2 separate regions of the Homo sapiens genome follow, and region 2 is linked to region 1. Evidence: fine-mapped expression QTL. A gene starts in region 1. The other region holds a variant in brackets. All regions are shown on one strand. Distances are from middle to middle.

The links. PIP is the estimated chance that this variant, and not a neighbour inherited with it, causes the effect.
Region 2: its variant is fine-mapped to the expression of RAD51B-AS1 in whole blood (GTEx, PIP 0.97).

The regions. Positions count from the first base shown.
Region 1 is chr14:68,683,852-68,686,767 of GRCh38, forward strand. It overlaps RAD51B-AS1 (RAD51B antisense RNA 1), which reads right to left and starts at 1,589. Exons shown (of 4, transcript XR_007064220.1): 1 at 1,520-1,589. RefSeq lists enhancers at 1-293, 1,877-1,926.
Region 2 is chr14:68,708,970-68,711,885 of GRCh38, forward strand. No RefSeq gene overlaps it. Among named protein-coding and RNA genes, the nearest start is that of RAD51B-AS1, 25 kb to the left of the region's middle. The variant T/C (reference allele first, on the strand shown) is at 1,772.

The DNA.
Region 1 (2,916 bases):
CTCATGGCTCTCAGGAGCAGGACACAAGAGACGGTTATGCCCAAGCACAGAACACTCTTGGAAAGCCATCCTTTCCCTTCTGCTGACATTCTGACCCCCTCAAGGGTTGTCCATGGGGAACAGGCTTTCTGCACCCAATTGACCAAAAAATAACAGAAGCCTTCTCCTTAAGAAAGAGAGCAGGCCAGACACAGTGGCTCACGCCTATAATCCCAGTGCTTTGGGAGGCTGAGGTGGGAGAATTGCTTGAGCCCAGGAGTTCAAGACCAGCCTGGGCAACACAATGAGACCTCGTCTCTACAAAAAAACTTAAAAATTAGCCAGGCATGGTCTCAGCTACTCAGGAAGCTGAGGTGGGAGGATTGCTTGAGCCCAGGAGGCTGAGGCTGCAGTGAGCCGTGATCATGCCACTGCACTCCAACCTGGACAATAAAGCAAAAGATCCTGCCTCAAAAAAGAAGAAAGAGAACAGAGCCCTACAGAGAAGGAAGAAGGCAGGCACATTGTCACTTTTGCTCTCAAGCTCCCTGGATCTCTCCTAGAGGAGAGACCCCCAAACCTGCCTGCACTCCGCAGGAGCTGACTGGGGGAGGACCCTTTCCAGGGACACCTCCCTGGAGGTGCTCTAATATTTGGCTGCTTGGCCATTCTGGGCCAAGAAGACTCCTTCCCTAGCCCAGGACCATTAGTCTCCCTGATGATTGCTGCAGAAAGGCCCAATTTTCAGGGCCCTACCTAGCCCTTCAATACCTTTGAGCCACCCATCTTGTCTGAGCCAGAGTCCTAAAGCCAGTCCTGAGCTTCAAGACCCATGCTTGCCCTGGCCACTGCTTCCCCTGGGAGAGCTGCCTGGCTTCCTGCAGAGAGCTGGCCTGCAAGTTGGAAGGGCATATTCTCCTCCCGGCTCCCTGGCTAAATTGCTATAGAATTTCAGGTCACTCAAGTGAACTTTCTGTGACTATTTTTTCCTCCCTTCAAGATTTATCAACTATTAATTGGAGCCTCTAGATGCCTGCAATGTGGAGGTCCTGAGAATTCAATACAGAATAATACAAATGCAGTTCTTCCTGTGAAGCCTGGACAACCTTTCCCTTCCTTCCTTCCTTCTTTCCTTCCTTCCTTCCTTCCTTCCTTCCTTCCTTCCTTCTTTCTTGAGTTTCCTGATGCCAGCTCCTCAGATGGTGAGCCAGCGGTGGGAAGGTAGTGGTGGGGGTGATTATAAATACAATAAGAAATAAACCCACACACTGCAAAACTCCATGTTAATACTATTAATAGTATTTCCAAATTGCATACAGGTAGAAGACAGTTCCTTAGCAACATGATCGTAATGAGAATTCCACAAGGGCATCTGGAATTTACTCTGTCAGACATTCCAGCTTATCAGGAAATGAAAAGGACCAAGACTATCATATAATGTGCAAACTATGCTAATGCCTATCACTAGTGTATATCAGACCCCAGTTACAGGACTGACCCATGGGACTCCCCTTGTCTCAGCTTTAATCACATGAAGTACCTGAGGCCTGTTGTCCTCCTCGGGGCTCAATGCCTTCTTGCGGCCAGGTCCTTCGTATAATTCAAGAGTTGAAATCACTGTCAACACAGCCCTTTGACTAATGTTCCGGGGTGACAGGCCTGGCACGTGAACACATGAGTGATGCTATTATCCCCCAAATCACAGGTGAGTGAGGTCTCTGGAGATGTCCACCCCCACATGAATTTCCCTTTGTGGTAGCAGTAACATCTGAGTCACTAAGCATGGGGCCACAATTTAGGCTCACTCCCTCCCCTTCCTGTGCCCCAAAAGGGGGCTGAAGGCGGGTCCTCACAGCAGAAAAAGCTCCACTTCCTCCGAGCTCCAGACAGCACATCTCAGCTGTGTTGGGCCTTACAAGGCTGCGGTCAACAGGCACCCAGGTGATGAGGTCTTTCTCAGCCTGTTGTTCTCTTGTTAGCCCTTTGATGTTTCAAAGCTGACGAGGTCAGCATCTTCCAGGCTGCAGGAAACATGCCTGCCAGGTATACCTTTCAAGCAGCTGATTAATATGTCATGTGGTCTCTGGTCAGAGGAGAGTGTAAGGGCTGTTGAAATGACTCACCAGCTCAGCTCCCGTGTCTTTGGGAAACGCTACCCTGTCAGCAAGAGGCCTCCAGCTGAAAAGTAAAGACACAGATCTGAAAGGGTACAGTTCTAGCGTCCAACAAACTATTATACATCCTAAATGAAGTGAGAAATGGTAGGCTCTTCACCTGCCAGGGCCTGGCGGGGCCTGTGTCCCAGGACTGCTTAGGAATCCAAGCCTCGCACTGTTTATCCATTATACTGATGAGAAGCCTGTGAGACAGGGAGGCTTGCTGGGCCTCCAAAGTCCACTTGCTGGCTTGTTACTTGGCACCATCAGATCTACGCTAGGGATGGTGTAACTAGAGCCTTTGAGTGCATGAAAAGTCTGTGGCCTGACAAAGCACTTACTGACCAAGGAAAATCAACTTCAGGTGCAGCAGGAAAGGTCTGGTACCCAGAATGTCTGGGGTTTTGAGACACTGGAAAAGATTGCCTAATAATGTCATGGGCTCCCTTCCCTGGAAATAATCTGAAAATAGGATAAGTTCCCTCCAATCTTGGATGGGTCAACCTCGTCTTGAGGTAAGGAGACGGTTACATCAACCCATGGAGAGGGCCTGTCAGCAACTCTGAGTCTATTAGAGGGTATATTTTCAAACACAAAAAACTTTTTATCCTGGTAAAATATACCTAACGTAAAAGCTACCATTTTACCCATGTTTAAGTGTACAATTCAGTGGCATTAAGTACATTCACATCGTTGTATAAGCTTCCCCGTCATCTCTCTCCAGAACTTTTTCATCTTTCCAAACTGAAACTCTGTGCCCATTAAACACTGACTCCTCTTT
Region 2 (2,916 bases), 25 kb after region 1:
AACACATTCAGGCAGAACACAATCAGATGTTCATGGAGAACATAGTCATTGAATATGTTTCAAAAAATCATTGTTTCAAAACAAGGTTTTGACCTATTGGCAAATTCAAAGAACTGGTGAAATGACTCCTAAGTAAGTTGACTTTCAGAGAATTGGCTGCTTCTCATGAGGGAAAATCAATTTCTGCTTCTTGTTGTCATCTGTTTACAATTTGATTCTGAGAACTTCTAGAACAGTGGTTCTCAAACATGAACGTGCATTAAAATCACTGCAAAGCTTGGCTGAACTGCCAATTCTTGGATGATGCCCCAAAGGATTCTGGTTCTAGGTGGGGCAGAGCCCAGGAATCAGCTTGTTGAGTACAATTCCAAGGTCACTCAGACACCACCAGTTCCCACACCTCACTTTGGGAGCAAGTTGAGCGTAATGAAGAAAATGGTTAATCATGAGATGTTGCTATAATATTCTAAGGTAGGATTTTTTTCCTTCTCTTAGTGTGCTTGAAAATTACATCCAGCCTTAACACTAATATTGTAAGATAATCAAATTACCTACATCTCACCATTCTTTTTGTGTGTTTGAGACAGGACCTGTCTGTATCACCCAGGCTCTGTATCACAAGTATAGCTCACTGCAGCCTCAAACTCCTGGACTCAAGTGATCCTCCCACCTCAGCCTCCAGAGTAGCTACGACTACAAGCTCACACCACCAATCCCACCTATTTTTTGTAGAGACAGATCTTGCTATATGGCCCAGGCCAGTCTCGAGCTTCTGGCCTCAAGTGATCCTCTTGCCTTGGCTTCCCAATGTGCTAGATTATAGGTGTGAGCCACCGTGCTTGGCACCTATACCTCATTATCCTAACATAATTATCTTTTGCAAACAGCCTTCAACATGCATGCCAACTGATTGCCAAAGGTACATACTGATTTATATTCTACCTTTTCTGTTTACTATGATATAAGAGACATCTTCCACTATGTGGCAAAGGCATTGTCATTATCATTTCTAATGTTTAAATAATATACCACACACAGATTTCCTATAACTTGCACAATTAGTCCTCTAATATTTTATATCTTCTATGTGCTGTATCATTTCCAATTTTTAAGCACAGTGAACATCTTCAAACATGTAGGTTTTTTTTGCTTCTGTTGAATAATTTTTATAGAATTCATTTCCAGAACTGGAATTAGTGGTGTGGTAGGAATCTACAGTGGTTCCCTACAGTGAGAACGCAGTAGAATAAGGACCAAAGACCATTCCTGGGATGACATGAAACATGAATATTGTAATCCCCTATTAAGCCACTTTCTTGAAGCTCTAGGATAAAGGTCACAGTTGGTTTTACAGATCAATTTAAGGTCAGATCATTGAAGAAGTTAGACAAGCAGGGGTTATGAGCTTCTTATAGAATCATGATTTTAATGTAGCATGTGGGGAAGACCTGAGACACTACAGGTACTTAATGTGTTCCAGTATTTGATGCATAATAAAGATACTGCACTTAGCTCATTAACAGCCTGGCATAATTGAATTGCATCATTAAATCATTAACACTCCTTGCCACACCACCCAACATGTCTGGGAACTATCCAGAGGCGTCCCATTGAGTCCTAAGACCTTGGGAAGAGTAGAGCCAACTCCCCCAATTCTCATCCTGCCCTTCCCCAGCTGCTCCACCAGTAGAAGAGGGAAGTGGAGGTCTGGATGTAAGGAAGACCATTAGCCAAGTCTCACCTCCTACCTAGGGCTGCAGTTGTGACAGTG[T/C]GCCGAGGAACCACGGAAAACCGGGAGGAAAAAAACTGGTTGCTCTCCAGATGTGTAATGTGAGGAAGTTATTCTGATCTCGCTTCCTCGAAGATGGGATCTTTGTCTTATTGACACCTCAGTAGGTGTTCCACAAATGGTTGTCCACAGAGTGAATGAATGGATGGCCTTTGCCTAGGCTCATACTGATACCCCAGGCTGCCTCTCCCTGATGTATTCTGTAGGGGGCACTCTCACTTCTGCCTTCGCCGCAGCCACCACTGGAGAAGTAGGCACCTGTGTCTCCATCCTGGGCAGCGCTGGTCTTGGCTTTACTTATCTCCTGGATCTGGTGTTTTGAACCTGACAAAAGGCAGGCATGTGGGTACATTAAAGCACAAACAATGTGCAGTACGTTTATTTGCTGGATGACCATTCCAGCCATTCCAAAGTCCCACTTGAGTGGGGCATTACAGGAACATCCTCCGTCTAGAAATCTGAGCCCTGGTTCTTCTTCTTCAACTGTCTTCTCTATCTCATTCCACCCTGCTTGAGTTCTCCCGCCTGACTGTGCAAGCAGCCTCTCCCTTCAGACCTCTACCTCCTCTTCTGAGATCCAACTACCGCAGCTAGGAAGTCCATTGTAAACCCAGAACCAAGGATGTTTTCCTTTTCCCTGTTTCCTGCTTTTCAACAATGCACAAAACCTCTTTGAGCCTCAGACTGGACTGCCCAAGACCCACCTCCTACAGCACCTAAATCTTCAGCTCTTATTCTCCAGCAATAAGAAATCAGTTCCATACACGTTAAGAGCTTTGGTCCCGGGCCTCAGACCAGATCATTGGTCCCATCAACCTCAGACCATATGTTCACGTGAGGACAGCAGGTGGGAGGCCACCTGCCTTCCCCCATCTGCTTGCCCTGCCTGGGATACTGAAACACAGGTAAAAAGTGGAGAGGCATCTTCCTGTCCCAGCCCAGCTGCTGAGAGGTGAACTAGAGAGGGCGGCCTCGATCCAGTCGGCCCAGATTGAGGCCCAGACTCAGACACCTCCGGGTTCCCACGCTCAGGCAGCAGGCCTGAAGCAGAACTGGTTTCATAATCTCACCTCTGCCCAGTGCTTTTTGCAAAATGATCTGCCATTTGGTTCCCACATCACAATCAT